Linked DNA regions of Homo sapiens: region 1 is linked to region 2. A link means that fine-mapping ties the variant in region 2 to the plasma level of a protein whose gene starts in the linked region. Region 2 holds a variant in brackets. A gene starts in the other region. All regions are shown on their reverse strands.

Region 1 (8,462 bases), not on the chromosome of region 2:
CTTTTCTTTCTCTTCTGTAGCTCCAGGAGGGCTGGAGATTCTGTCTTGTGCACGGTTGCCTATAAAGGGTTAAAGAGTGCCTGGTGCTTCTAAGATGCTTGTTATGGGATGAATCGTGTACCCCAACATTCACACTGAAGCTGTACCATGCACTACCTTGGAATGCAACTATATTTGGAGATACAGCCTTTAAAGAGGTAGTTAAGGTAAAATGAGGTTACGAGGATGGGCCTGATTCCAATCTGACCTCATATTCCACAGCACCCACTCGGAACACCACATCTGTGTCCTGCCAAATGATGACTGTGCGAGCCCCTGCCCCCTCTCCTCTCCAACTCGGGTAGCCCTAGGCTTCACCCGTCTTCCAAACAGTCGTTCTCACTTTGCTGCAGCAGCGGCCTCTGGGAAAGGGCCCTTGGGTTTGGGCAGCTCAGCCTGTCAACCCAAGTCTGTCCTTCTGGCACACAGCTCCTCTTTCTTGGAGCCCCTTTGCTTGGCCTGGGTTGGGGGGACCCACCATCTCTTCTCCCTAGGTGCTCTCTGCTTTGATGAGTTTCCTTCAAAAACTCTCCTCAGGCTTCTCTAGCTCCGGATACAGGAGGGTGGATAAAGGAGCAGTCTAGCTGCCTGCCAGCAAGACACACAGGGAGGTGTCTGCACCTGCAGAGAGAATAGGGGTCTTGTCCTTAGCTGTTGTCCAAAACAACAGAAAATGCTCCACTCCACAGGCTGCTGTGCTTTTAGAGGAAACCAAAGTAAGACCTTGAGTCAGTCAGGGTCCTCTCAGGAAACAAAGGGTGAACTCAGCTGTTTGGGTTTTTTTTTTTTAATTCAGAGAATTTAATGAAGGGACTATTTACTTGGGTGTGAACATTAAGAAAACCAACATGGGGCATTGAGGCATCCTGGGGCTAGCAAGGATGACAGCCCTCATCATCCCAGCCTAAGGGGCAAGGGGAGGAAACAGGGTTACTGGAGACAGTGAGGGAGGTTATGGCAGGAGATGTCATCAGGAGGTGGGGGGGAGGGGCGGGAGGGACAGCGGGCACAGCTACGGCCAAAACTGCAGTGCTCATCAGGACAGGAGCTGGGAGAAATACTTCAACCTCTCTCTTCTCCCATCTCCTGCTGGTGTCTCCCATTAGTCAAACCCAGCTGGAAGCCAGGGGCCATGGAAACCCAGCGATGTCCTCCCTACAGGGCAGCCCCCACACCAGGCACAGAGGAGGATGTGGGTGGATCAGGGAACGCAGAGAACAACCAGCACAGGCCTAACCCAGGGGCGGAAGCCATACCAACTTGAGCAAATGTCTTACCAAAATGACATCGAGGAAGCACAGGGGGTCATCTGTTTTTACTGAGCCATCTGGGTTTGACAATATTACAGCATACATTACAATGACTATTACAGAGGGTATTTAGTGGAGACTTTTTTGTACACTTGCAGCCACTTCTCCTCCTAGTCTCACACTCGTTTTCTGTATTATAGTCAGGGATGCCTCTCTCCCTGAATCAGTCCAGTTTCCATCAAGTAACACTCAGGTTAGGACAATTTGAGTAGCATTTAATAAAAGGACTATTTGCTGAGGTGTAAGCAGGAGATGGCCCCCTATCTCTGGGCTGGTAACACCAGGGCTGTCAACACCCCTAGACCTGAAGCGGGCAGAGGAGGAAGGAGTCACCCACAGTGAGTCAGGAGGCTGTATGGAGATGGCTACCTGGCAGGACTTGAGACTGTTGGCTGAGAAACAAAACCAGTGTGTGGGGACTCTACAAGGAGGGGAATGAATATTCCTACTTCATTCTCCTTCCCGCTGAATCCTGATAAGCTCCTCATTGGCTGGACCCAATCAGAAACCAGAGGGTGAGGCTGGCCTTCCGGGGCCCAGGGCAGTAGGGAGAAAGGTGGGGAGGCAAATGAAAGGTGTCCAACTGCACTCCCCTTGCCAAGGGATGCATAAAATTACCCAAGCAAGGCCAATGGGATGGACCCTCCTCACTCCTGGAATCTGGCAGACAGACAAAGCCATAGCCATGTGCATTGAGCAGCATCAACCCAACATTGTCCCACCACAGGACCCCCACTGAGGGCCTGCTTTCCAGAGCCCAGGGCAGCCTCAGCTCCCACCCACCCCTAGTCTAGACTCCCAGCAAAGCCTCCCAACAAAGTCAGAGTTAGTGTCTGTTGTTGGCAATGACAGAATCTAGACACAAACATCTTTATGCATGTGAGTTGGGGGTCTCTTTCAAAAACATCAGCAGGCAGAGCAAACTGATCACTGGGAGGGCTGAGAACCAAGCTCAGGGCTTTGCAGCCTAAGCCTAAGCCAGTGTCACTCAGCACTGTGCTTGCCAAGCCACCACCAACCACCCAGAGAAACTAGGACCCAGACAGCACTGGGGTCACCATCGCCCCAGGAATGGATTCTTCCTGCTTCTGCTTCTCAAATCACTTTCTCCCAAAATGAAGCCCAGGACCGTGCATTTTATCAGCTAAACCAAGGCCATGTGCCTTCAATCAAACTGCAAGGAACCCTGGAAATGTGAACACCCAGCATTCTAGTTAGGAGAGGAACACCCCAAATGTGGGAAGAGGTTTCCCATGCTGGGCAGCCAACAAGTAATGTCCCCCAGCTGTATCTGTAGCCTCTTCAACATGTCAGAGTATTTCCTCCAGACAACACCTTAGAAGGATTACCGACTCTGGGCATGTTATTACCAAATTTCTTTACCACAAAAGTTAAACTAATTTCCAGCCACATCCAGTGAACACAGTGCCTGCTTTGCTGCACCCACACACATTATTGCATTTTTTAAGTAAAAACTAATTGGCAAAATGTAATTGATACCTCGTATCTTAATTCTCTCTTTTCTAGGGGGAGAAGGAGTTTCTATGTTTGCTCATTAGTGGTATTCTCCAAAAGTCTTCAATACTTGACTTTGGACCATTTTAGTATTTGTTTTGATAACTGATTTTTTTTCATTATTTTCCCTTTTATAGACTTGTGTTAAAATTAGCTGGCATTTGCTGAAAGAAGAGATCAGGATTAGATTCAGCTGTGTGTAACAGAAAAAAAAACAACAGACACTTAAAATACATAGAAGTTTCTTTCTCTCCTGCATAAAAAAGGCCTAGAGGAGGGCAGTCCAGGGCTGTTTTTGTACCGACTCCACAAAGTCGTGAGAGGCTTTGCCAGTTCCTCCTCTGCCATTCCCTGATGAGGCCTCATCTTCCTCATCCCCACTGTCCAAGGTGGCAGCTAGAGCTCCAGCCATCACATCCAGCAGGACAGAGGGCAGGATGAAGAGGGACAAGCCACCTACCTTTACAACATACCTGTTGGCATCTTGTTGGCCAAAATTCAGATGTGTGACCTCACCTAGCTACAAGGGAGGCTGGACAATGAGCCCAGATAAAAATCAGGATCTTACTACTGAGGACTAAGGGAAGAACGAGTATTGAGAGCCAGCCAACTGTCTCTTCCACAGGCAAGCATACAAGCTGTGTTGAAGACAACCCATTCATATGAGAATCATGATGTTTATGATGACGATGACGATAGCTAATATTTACTAAATAGCTGCCATTTGTAGGCACTGTTTTAGGAACTTGATATGTATTACTTAATCCTTACCACACCCCTATGAAGTAGATACTATGACTATCCTCATTTTACAGAGGAGGAAACCAAGGCACAGAGAGACTAGGTAATTTTTGCAAGGTCACCCAGCTAACAGGCAACAGAATCTAGATTTGAACTGAGGTAGCCTGACACAAGACACAACTATGAATAGAGGCAATCACAGAACCAAGTCAGGGAGGCCAACTGGGGCTTTGCCAAGGGGCTTATCTATTGACTCAGGAGTGGAGAGATGGGACCTAAGCCAGAGCTGCCTCATCACTTTGCCTTTGAATATTTCATCTGTTCATCCATTCAACACAAATGTCCTTTTGTAATACACCTTACATTTGCAATTCACTGTCCAAAACCTGTGCTTGCCACTCCTTGTGGGGCAGATACTGTATCCTCAGCAGCCAGCATAGCCTATAGCACACAGCGCTCAAAAGATATCTGTGAGCCAGGTGTGCTGGCCCTGTAGTCCCAGCTTCTTGGGAGACTAAGGTGGGAAGAACATTTGAGGCCAGTTCAAGACCAGCCTGGGCAACATAGGGAGACCCCCCCCATCTCTACAAAAAAATTAAAAAATTAGCTGGGTGTGGTGGCACACCTGTAGTCCTAGCTCCTTAGGAGGCTGAGGTGGGAGGATCACTTGAGCCCAGGAGCTTGAGGCTGCAGTGAGCTATGATTGCACTTGGGCAACAGGGCAAGGCCCTGACTCTAGTATCTTATCTATATATAGATATAAATACGTAAGTGACTGTGCATGTACATATCAAGCCTACTCTGTGCCAGGCTCTGTGATGGGCACTGAGCATGCAGAAATGAGACACACACCCTGCTCACTGGCCCTTATGGCCAACAAAAGGAGGCAGATGAGCGGGCACCACAAGGAGCAGCACAAAAGAGTGGGGACCTCCATGGTGAAAAGTCTGGAGTGGCTGCACTGTAGTTTATGAGTCACAGCAATAAGGGACAAGGTCCTCAAGGTAGGCCAGAGACAGACTTGAAATTCCTTTCATGTCCAAGGTGAGAAACCTAGCCTCAGCCCTGAGGCAATAGGGAGCCATGAGGCTTTAAGCAGGGTGACATAATCTGAGAGGCCATCTAGAACAACTCTCCTGGTAGTGTGCCAAGGATAGGAGGAGAGAGCCCAGAAGTAGGGAGATTCAGATGAATCTGGGAGGTGTGGGAGCCAAAGTGAAGGGTTTGGAAGAAGAAAGGAGGGGTGGAGTGAGGAGAAACAAAAGAGGTCCCATACCTATTGCATGTGAGCCAGATGGGCCAGGGAACTGTGGGAGGGGAAAAGAGTGGGCCTGAGGTGGCCAGAGTGAGGGGGGCTGGGGAGGGGGACTGGAGAGGGGCCCTGGCCTGAGCTGGGGCAGACAGAGCAGTTGGACGCCAGCAGCCTTGTGCTCATGGCTCAGAAATGTCCCAGGCCTGCCAAGAAACTGCTGCCTCTGTCCCCCCACCAGCCCCAGCCAGGCTCCCACATCAGGAGCTCTGAAACTGTCCCCTCAGCCTTCTGCTCCCCCAGAGCAGGCCTCCCGTCCCCAGAAGCCAGGCATATGACACCCCCACTCTCCCTCAGCCCTCCCCCTCAATGGCTGATGAAACACAGGCCAGGGAAGGAGGGGAAAGAATAAACAGACATCTGCAGGGGGGCCCATCAGGAAGTAGGGGGCAGGCTGCGGCGGGCTGGGGCTGCCTGGGGGCGCCAGGGGGCCCACAGGTCTAGCAGGGTGGGTGGCAGATGGCGGATAGCGGATGGAGTGGGATCCAGGGAACAGTTGGAGCCAGCAGGGAGTTAACGTCTGCAGTACTTTGCCCGACAGGACTAATGAGACACAGGTGGTCCCCTGGCTCCAGCCCCACCTCCCAGCCCCCTGATAGTGTAAACTGATGCTGGTTGTCTGGGGTGGGGAGAGGGGGGTTCTGCAGCTACGGGAAGGGGGGCGGGGCTGGGGCGGCTGGCGGGGGCCCAGCGCATAACTCTGGGCGGTTGCAGTCTGGGGCCGCAGACACCCAGCCACTCTGAGCAGAACTGACAGCATGAAGGTACGGGGCCCAGGGTCGGGGGACTCATAGCATGGGGGAACTGAGCCCACTCCAGAGGCCCCTGGCCACAGAGGGCACTATGAAGGCACAAGGAGTTCTCTTGAAACTCGTAAGCTATGAGGGTACACAGCGTCCCAGAGAGTGGGGTTACTTGGCGGGCGGGGTGGGGGGGCAGGGAAGAGGGGCCAAATAGCAGGAGAGGGATTCAGGCAAGGGCAGTATGTGCATGCATGGTGGGGGCAAATGCAAAGAGAACAGGGGATCTCTGGAGCTGGGAAGGGGCTGTGCTGACCCTGTCTGCCCATCGCCAGGCACTCCTGGCCCTGCCGCTGCTGCTGCTTCTCTCCACGCCCCCGTGTGCCCCCCAGGTCTCCGGGATCCGAGGAGATGGTAAGCAGCCCCACACTCACAGACGCGGCCTGGCCCACAGGTTGTGCAAGAAGAGGCTGGACTGTCAGAACAGACTGTCAGGGCCGAGCCCCAGCTCTGCAGGACTCAGGTTCCTCCTTTACAAAATGGGGCAGATGGATGACATAAGCATTGCTCATCTCCCTTGAAGAAATCTTCCATGACTCCTTGTGTCAAAGTCCCCCAGCCCCAGGGACTGAGGCAAACCTTGGGGTGCTGAGGTGTCAGTGATGCCATAGTCCCACTCTCCTCACTGTCCCCATGTCCCTACCCCCAGCTCTGGAGAGGTTTTGCCTTCAGCAACCCCTGGACTGTGACGACATCTATGCCCAGGGCTACCAGTCAGACGGCGTGTACCTCATCTACCCCTCGGGCCCCAGTGTGCCTGTGCCCGTCTTCTGTGACATGACCACCGAGGGCGGGAAGTGGACGGTGAGTGGGAGGAGGGAACAGAGGCCAGAGCTGGTTCTAATCCCAGCCCTGTGACCCTGGGCTTCACATATGCGAACCTCAGTTTCTTCATCTTTAAAATGGGGATAATGATACCCACAGCACAGCTTCTGAGCAGCTGCCAACGCTTAATTCTAAGTGCCTGAGGTAGGTGTTTGTTTGTTTGTTTTGAGGCGGAGCCTCACTCTGTCATCCAGGCTTGAGTGCAGTGGCTCCATCTCAGCTCACTGCTGGAAACTCCACCTCCCAGGTTCAAAAGATTCTCCTGCCTCAGGCTCCCGAGTAGCTGGGATTACAGGCATGTGCCACCATGCCCAGCTAATTTTTTTATTTTTAGTAGAGATGAGGTTTCACCATGTTGGCCAAGCTGGCCTTGAACTCCTGACCTCAGGTGATCCGCCCGCCTCAGCCTCCCAAAGTGCTGAGATAACAGGCGTGAGCCACCGCGCCCAGCTGAGGTAGGTTAATGCACATAAGCCTCACAATAATCCTGGGAAGTAGTGAGGAACTAAAGCCCAGAGAGGTGAAGTAACTTGCCCAGATCCCACAGCTAGGCACTCGAACTCTAGAACGCCTCCCTCTTAGCCTCTTTCCTGCCTCTATACGAAACTGGGTATGAAGAGCCCAGGTGGGTGCTGGCAACTGCTCCACAGGGGGCCTGGTGCCAATGTGGACGTTGTTTTAGCAACCCCACTCCCACCACCCTCCCCACCCCCAACCCAGTCCTTTAACAAACTGGCCACAGCATCACAGGGTCCATGCTTGAGGTGGGCAGGGCAGGACCAGAACCTTGCCCATTGGACCCTTGATGATCCAGTCTCATCTTCTCTGCTCCAGGTTTTCCAGAAGAGATTCAATGGCTCAGTAAGTTTCTTCCGCGGCTGGAATGACTACAAGCTGGGCTTCGGCCGTGCTGATGGAGAGTACTGGCTGGGTAAGGCAGGGACCAGGTGGGCTGAGGGGCTGCCCCAGGGCCAGGTCCTTGTTGACCAGCTGCCCCTCCTCCCCAGGGCTGCAGAACATGCACCTCCTGACACTGAAGCAGAAGTATGAGCTGCGAGTGGACTTGGAGGACTTTGAGAACAACACGGCCTATGCCAAGTACGCTGACTTCTCCATCTCCCCGAACGCGGTCAGCGCAGAGGAGGATGGCTACACCCTCTTTGTGGCAGGCTTTGAGGATGGCGGGGCAGGTATAACCCGCTGTTAGCTTTGGGAGGGGCTGTGAGGGGAAAGAAGGCAGGGCTGGCCCTGCCCAGTCAGCCCCAACCTCCTTCAGGCCCCTCCTTCAACCCTTCTGGATCTGGAAGGGCCACAGCTGGCTCCAAACAAGCTCAAACCAGCTTGGGCCTCAGCCCTGGGGAGCAGCCATCCTGGCCCTGCTCCAGGCAACTCTGTGGTGGAGCAGCTGTTTCTCTTCATTGCAGAAGCACATCAACCCAACATCTGGCTCAGGGAGGGTGCCCCCATCCCGCCAGGCTGCCACGTGATATCTCTCACAGTCGTCATTGTCACCCTCTCCCGGCCAGCTCGGGGCTCAGTTCCCTGCCTCAGCAGCCCCAACCCTTCTCTCCTCTGCCAGGTGACTCCCTGTCCTACCACAGTGGCCAGAAGTTCTCTACCTTCGACCGGGACCAGGACCTCTTTGTGCAGAACTGCGCAGCTCTCTCCTCAGGAGCCTTCTGGTTCCGCAGCTGCCACTTTGCCAACCTCAATGGCTTCTACCTAGGTGGCTCCCACCTCTCTTATGCCAATGGCATCAACTGGGCCCAGTGGAAGGGCTTCTACTACTCCCTCAAACGCACTGAGATGAAAATCCGCCGGGCCTGAAGGGCTGGCCCCCTCAGGCACCTTTCCTCCCCTGGACACCCATGGTCTCCATGAGTGCTCCCTCTGCTGCCCCTGATGCATGCTTCTGCTGATTCC
Region 2 (6,712 bases):
GTGTAGGACACCGTTGGTGGCAAGGAGGTCAGCCACATCCACGCTGGCATTCTGCACCCAGACCCTCTGGAAGGCAGCAGCAGAGCTTAGCCACAGGTGGGCACAGATAGACCCTTAAAGGTGGGGCAGCCCCAACAGAGAGACTGCCAGGCACACAGGCACCCACAGGTGGTCCGCAGGCTGGCCCACAAGCTGGGTTCTGCACAGAAGCTCCTCCCAGGAGCTGACTCTGATCCTGAGTCAGACTCAGGACCCACCAGCTGGGCACACAGACCCTCCCCAGGGCCCGTGGTGACAGGGGCGGGTGTGCATGTGCAGACTGAGATGGACAGAGAGCCCCTGCAGGCAGTCACTCCTGGCCCAGCGACTCAGTGTCCATCAGCAATGCGTCCTGAGCACATCCTTTGAGCCCGGCTCTGGGCAGGGCGAGGGGACCCCAATCTCATCCCATGGGGCCCCTGATGTGGGAGAGCCTGCAGCCACTCAGGCTCCCTCCCATGCCCTACCTGGTCCCCTTTTCTGCCCAGAGTTCACCACATACCCCACTAATGTTGCGAATCTCCCAGCGTGTGGTGGGGTTCAGGGTGGCCACTTCCTGCCCACCCAGCCGGGCCAGCTCCTCCTCGAAGAGGGCACCCTGGAGAAAATGGGCCCTGACAGGGCACAGTTTAGGGGGGTCATGGAATCAGGTTAGTGTAACTTACAGAGACCTTTGGGGCTGGGCCCACCCCAAGGGGTGAGTGCCTGCCAGGCTGAGGACTCGCTGGGGAGGGACTGGGTCCCTCAAGGAAGCCCCTCCCACAGCCTGGCAATGGCGGCCCCACCTGACCAGGTTCGGCAGCGTCCTTGGCTGCAGCCAGAAAGCTCGGTCCTCGGGGCTCAGCTGACGGACTGCAGCCTCGGAGGGCACCAGGGCTGTGACTCGGCGGTCGGCAGGAAGCGTGATGCCGGCACTCTGCACGCACACAGGGAGCAGGGGCGGGAGGAGCGAGGAAGGCAGCCATCATCTTCAGATCCCCTGCTCTAGGCTCCAGCCCTGCCCCCAACCTCCCACGCTTGGAGATGTTATATGGCACCCCTCCATCCAGGCAGGCCTCCTGGATTTGAGCCCTCAACCCCAGCATTCTGCCCTGTCCTACCTTAAGCCATTGGTAGAAGATGGAGAAGTGGGCATTTGCCTCCAGCTCCTAAGGGAAGGGAAAAGTCTGAGGTCACAGGACCAGGGGCAAATTCAAGCCCCTTCCCCACCATGGATCCTGAGCAGTGCCCCTTTCCCACCTGAGGTGCTGGAGAGGGCTCCTTCCCAAGCACGGGGAAGACAGAAAACGAGTCTGAGCACCCCTTACCCGGAAGATGTCTCCATAACAGCTGAAGCCATCACCCCCAAAGCCAGGGGGGCACGTGCAGACCCGCTGACCTCCCCCCACTGCCCGGCAGGTGGCCTGGGGTGGGAGTGAGAAAGGGCCTCCATTCAGAACCAGATGGCAGCTGGGCCCCTCCCTCCCCCATCTTTCTGCCTGTCCAGCCACCCAGCCCCAGCCCCTGCCCCTTGCTCTGCAGCCACCCAGTCTGTGTTGGTGGCACTCCTTCGGTGTGCCTAGCCCTGCTCTCCAGGACACTGGGCATTTGACACAAGCATTACCCATGCCAGGTGGATGCGAGGGAGCTCAGGGCTGTGGGAGGACCCAGGAGGCCCGTATCCCCAGGAGCCAGAGCTGAGAGCAGGAGGAGCTAGCCAGGCCCAGGTGCAGCTTGCAGAAGCAGGAGTGTGGTACAGTGGAGCAAGGGCAGGGGATGGTGAGGAGCTCAGCGTAGCCAAGGACAGTGGAAGTGGGGCAGGAGTGGAACAGAGAGACGAGGCTGGGCAGGGGCGGGTGAAGGGGGAGAGGAGTGACATGGTTGGATTTGAAGTTTAGAAAGATCTTAATCCTGAGGGGGTACAGAGAGACACCCAGAGATGGGGAGGGAGGGAGAGAGCTGCAGCCCAGGCTCACCCCAGAAAGCTTCCCCAGGGCTCTGAGCCTTGCACCCCCTTACCAGGCCGTGGCAGCCGCCATTGCCTGCCCGGCAGGGGTCGATGGGGCTGCACTGGTAGCCATCCCCGGCAAAGCCCAGCTTGCAGGTGCATCGGCTCTGGAAAGGTTAGGAACAGACGGCCTTGTCTCATGATGAGCATCCAACCCTTTCTTCCTCCATTACTTGGCTCTCTCTGGTCACTGCCCCCAGGGAGGTCTGCCCAGACCCCAGAGGAACTTCTCCCAGCCCTCCTCTCAGAGATCTGTGCTCCAGATGGGGAGACAGAGGCCCTAAGGGGAGACTGGCTCTCAGGATGAGTCCACGGAGGTGAGAGCATTTGCAGAGAAGCATCCGTGGAGACTTGGTGCTCCTGCACTTGGAGCCTGGGGCCCTGCCAGGGCCATTGAGGCCAACAGCTTGTGGCAAGTGTGTAGGTACCTGCCAAGGCCAGCCCCAGGATAGTGGCTTAGATCCCACCTCCACCCCTGCCACCCTACTCAGCTGCTCTAATCCCCCAACCAAATGCCAGTGTCCCTGGGCTTGTCTACACTGCAGGTGAGTGACCAGCGAGACCCCTCAGCTCTCAGGTGCCCTTGTTTGCACGTTGGGAGCATCTCACTGGCTCATTCAACACCTCTGTTCTGAATTAAGGCCCTAATGGGGTTTGGAGCTCCAGCTCTTACACCTGTCAGTTCTTACTGCTAAGGCCCCACGTGCTGGTGCCCAGAGGCCACCTTGGAGTTGGGAGGACAGGGAGCCCCACAGGCCTGGCCATGCAGAGGCTGACCCTGACCAGCCAGGCCTGGCCTCCCACTTGGCGCGTTAGACAGTCTTCAATGCCTGTCCAAACACTGGTTCACCAGTCCTGAAATGCTCCACATGGAAGGCTCCAGGTTCCGAGCTCCCGTGACTAGATTCAGACACTGCAAAGCTCCGGGGCTGGATTTCCATGAGGCTAAAGTTTTGGGGAGGTCACTCCCACGGGCAGGGGCTTTTCCTGCTTTGCTCAGTATCACATTCCCTACATCTAGAACACGGACTAGCATGGAATAGGTGCCTGAAAACACCTGGGAAAGCAATGAGCCAATGGATGAAGGAGCGAATCCCAGATGCTACTACTCAGCATGTCAGCACTGGGTTCTCATCTGCACCTGAGGCTCCAGACCCTGAGCACCTGACTCTGCATTCCAGGAGTCAGATGGGGCAGGGAGAGAGTCCCCCAGAACCAAGGCCCCCACCCCTTCTCTGCTGCACCTCACCTGCCCGGGGCCCACATAGCTGCAGAGGGCATCGGTGTGGCAGCCACCTCTCATGTCCAGCTCACACTCGTCAATAGCCACACAGACGCGGCCATCCCCACTCCAGCCTTTGTGGCATGTGCAGTGGTGGGTGCCCAGGGACCCAGGGACACACTCAGCCTGTGAGAGCCATGGATAAATAACTGAGGGACACAAGAACGTAGGCAGAGGGCCAGGGCATCCCACCTCCTGCCTCTGGGTCAGAACTTCAGGGAAGGAGCAAGGGGACTGACATTCTCTGAGCAGCCTCCACGGTCCGGGTGGGAGCAGGGGTTGCTAGGTGTGCAGGAGAAGCCATCACCCTCAAAGCCATCAAGACAGCGACATCTGGGGGTGGGTGAAGGAGGGGGCTCCAGTGAGCCTCAGGTATGAAAGGTCACGGGTGGGGCAGACAGAAGGTGTGGGTCCTCACCTGGCAACACCCTCCTGGCTAACACAGCGGGCATGCAGGTGGCAGTGCTGGGCCAGCCCTGTGGGCCCACAGTCCCCCATGGACTCGTTGCAGAACCGGCCACTGAAGCCAGGGGCACACGTGCCCTGCTGGCACACCCCCCCACTGCCTGGGCGGTTGTCGCAGAGACCATGGACACAGCCGCAGTCTGTATGGAGTAGATGGGAGCAAGGAAACTGAGAAGCAGGAGGCAGGGCTGGCTGGGAGCCAGGATGGGTTTGGGGGATATAGGGAGTGGGGCAGCCAGTACAGATTTGACTTCAGGGTGGAAAAATCAGAGGTTATCTCAGACTCAATGGGCAGGCAGATGAAATGTGAGGGGGGCATTCTGAGCTTTCAATTATCCCATTCTAGTTGCCCTGATCCCAACACCACCATCAGGAAGTTCTTCAGTGTGTCTGACCTAAGTCCCGCATACTTTAAGCCACAGTTCCCTTCCTGGCCTGGGTGAAGCAGACAGCATCTCCTTTCTGTTCTCAAATCTTCCTCCACTCCCCTTGGCCTTCGTCCCTCCTCCTGGGGCTTCGTTTCCCTTCTTGAGAGCCCCCAGACCCATTTTTAGGCAAATCTTCCTCCACTCCCCTTGGCCTTCGTCCCTCCTCCTGGGGCTTCGTTTCCCTTCTTGAGAGCCCCCAGACCCATCTTTAGGCAGACGTTTTTTCTCCCTAGGAGGTGGCCTGAGCCAGGACCACCCACCTTCCTGGCATTGCTCTCCATGCTTGTTTGGGTTCGAGCAGATGTGGCAGGCGATGCCCTTGTAGTCTGGGAAGCAGAGGCAGGCCCCATTGCCCTGGATCCCATCACTGCACTAGAGAGTGAGCAGAAGGCAGGATCAGTCATGGGAAAGGGACTCTCTACATCCCCTCTCCCAACACCCCCTCCTTTCATGGGCTGGCTCTGAGCTCTTGCTACCCGTGAGAGCTCATCCTGGAAGGGATCTTCAAAATCACTGATGCCGCCAAAGACCTAGCCCCTAAAAGGCACCTGGCCCTGGAGGCTTTATGAGCAACATTTGCTGGATGCAGAAACACATAACTCCTGTGTTCTTCTATAGCCAGGTGCTAAAGTAACCGTGATATTACAAAGTGGTAAAAACAGAACACAAAAGAAAACC[A/G]CCAAGTAGCCTTTTTGGAAATAAATGCCAAAAAATCTATCTATCTATCTATTATTATTATTATTATTATTATTGTTATTTTGGGATGGAATCTCACTCTGTTGCCCAGGCTGGAGTGCAGTGGTGCAATCTTGGCTCACTGCAACCTCCGCCTCCCAGGTTCAAGTGATTTTCCTGCCTCAGCCTCCTGAGTAGCTGGGATTACAGGTGTGTGCCATAACACCAGGCTAATTTTTGTATTTTTAGTACAGACAGGGTTTTGCCATGTTGACCAGGCTGGTCTTGAACTCCTGACCTCAAGTGATCTGCCCGCCTCAGCGTCTCAAAGTGCTGGGATTACAGGCATGAGACATTGCACCTGGCCTCTCTAATTATTTTTAATTAAAATATGAGAAATAATTTGATCCAACTTTCCACTGCATAGATATGAGAATCCCAAGGCCAGAGTGGCAGGCTTGGCCCAGACACACAGCCAGTCACTGGCCAACCGGTGAAGGAGTCCTTGTGTTCCCCATACCTCACCCCAGGAGAGGATGGGACTCACATTGCCTTTGCCATAGCAGGGGTTGGAGAAGCCCCCAGGACACTGCGTGCAGTCAGGCCCGAAAAAACCTTTGCAGCAGCCTTGTTCCTATAAGAGACAGAACAGGTCCAAGAGGCCATCTGGGTCCATGCCCTCCCTGCCCAGGCTGCCTCTGCTCCCTGGCCCCATCTCCAGAGTGACGGAGTGGATAAGGTTTCTCTGGGACCCCTTTTCCACCGTCAGGCTGCAGTGCATCCTCTGAGGGAGGGAGCCCACTCAGCCCCAGCTTGGGGGCCCCCGAGGAACAGCAGGTGCCCAGGTGACCTGGGAGTGGGCACCCATGCCCACGCTTACCATGATGGTTTGGTTGCAGTAGCTGGCACAGCCCTTCTTTAGCACATTGAGCCCCGTTGGGTCATGGATGTAGACACACTCCTTGGGGAAGATGTCCTAGGGTGGGCCATGCAAAGCCAGTCAGTGGGTGTGGGTTCTGGGCCAGCCCCTTTGCTAGGCAGCCCTGGTTAAGGGACCTCTGCCCCCTGGGTCCAGAACTCTAACCCTGGTCCAGTGGGGCTGCGAAGCACTTAGCCTCCAGGTGTGATCTAGCCTCCCAGCCTCTGCTTCCCCCACCCACCCCTGTGACCCAGGGCAGAAACCTCAACAGGCAGTCAGGAGGCCCTGAGAGCTGGGCCAAGGTGTGCTCACCAGCTTCACACTGTTGGGGGGACACGTGCTGGTGTTCAGGGCTTGGCAGTCCACACAGGAGCCCTGGGCAGGGCAGGGGCAGGATGGGGAGAGGGGTTAGTCATTGTTTATTTACTCGGCAAACCCAGAGAAGGGAACATTGAGTGGGGATTAAGGGATGAGAAGAGCCAACCACAGGAAGCCCAGCACTGGCATTCCAGGCAGAGGAGAGCAGGGGCAGAGGCCCCGAGCCGGGCAGAGCTAGAGTCTCTGGAAAACAGCAGAGAGGCCAGAGGCAGGCACAGAGTGAGTGAAAGGGGATGGAGCGGTGGAGGATGCAAGAGTTATCTCAGGCCAGGCTCAGTGGCTCATGCCTGTAATCCCAGCACTTTGGGAGGCCGAGGTGGGCGGATCACCTGAGGTCAGAGGTTTGAAACCAGCCTGGCCAACATGGTGAAATCCCATCTCTACTAAAAATACAAAAATTAGCCAGGCATGTTGGCGGACACCTGTAATCCCAGCTACTCGGGAGGCTGAGGCAGGAGAATCGCTTGAACCCAGGATGCGGAGGCTACAGTGAGTTGGGATTGTGCCACTGCACTCCAGCCTAGGCGACAGAGCAAGAC

Direction of the effects. Alleles are on the strand shown, and positions count from the first base shown. The strength of an association depends on the size of the effect and on how common the allele is.
For the plasma level of the protein whose gene starts at base 5,638 in region 1, allele G in region 2 goes with a lower level than allele A (moderate association).

What was found. PIP is the chance, under the fine-mapping model, that this variant and not a neighbour inherited with it causes the effect. The UK Biobank Pharma Proteomics Project read protein levels with antibody pairs (Olink). The fine-mapping took linkage between variants from a reference panel, not from the people measured, so its PIPs are less certain.
Region 1: it holds the start of MFAP4, and the variant in region 2 is fine-mapped to the plasma level of the MFAP4 protein (UK Biobank, PIP above 0.99).

What each region holds. Positions count from the first base shown.
Region 1 is chr17:19,384,366-19,392,827 of GRCh38, reverse strand. MFAP4 (microfibril associated protein 4) reads left to right here and starts at 5,638. Exons shown (of 6, transcript NM_002404.3): 1 at 5,638-5,678; 2 at 5,990-6,068; 3 at 6,364-6,518; 4 at 7,374-7,470; 5 at 7,547-7,729; 6 at 8,119-8,462. The coding sequence starts at 5,673. The coding sequence ends at 8,366. RefSeq lists enhancers at 809-1,722, 5,713-6,258, 6,259-6,804, 6,805-7,350.
Region 2 is chr3:52,507,071-52,513,782 of GRCh38, reverse strand. It overlaps STAB1 (stabilin 1), which reads right to left. Exons shown (of 69, transcript NM_015136.3): 19 at 6,108-6,170; 20 at 5,757-5,852; 21 at 5,424-5,510; 22 at 4,462-4,573; 23 at 3,727-3,913; 24 at 3,548-3,641; 25 at 3,276-3,434; 26 at 2,038-2,133; 27 at 1,347-1,442; 28 at 1,140-1,187; 29 at 825-955; 30 at 542-653; 31 at 1-66. Among named protein-coding and RNA genes, the nearest start is that of STAB1, 15 kb to the right of the region's middle. RefSeq lists an enhancer at 6,211-6,712. The variant A/G (reference allele first, on the strand shown) is at 4,880.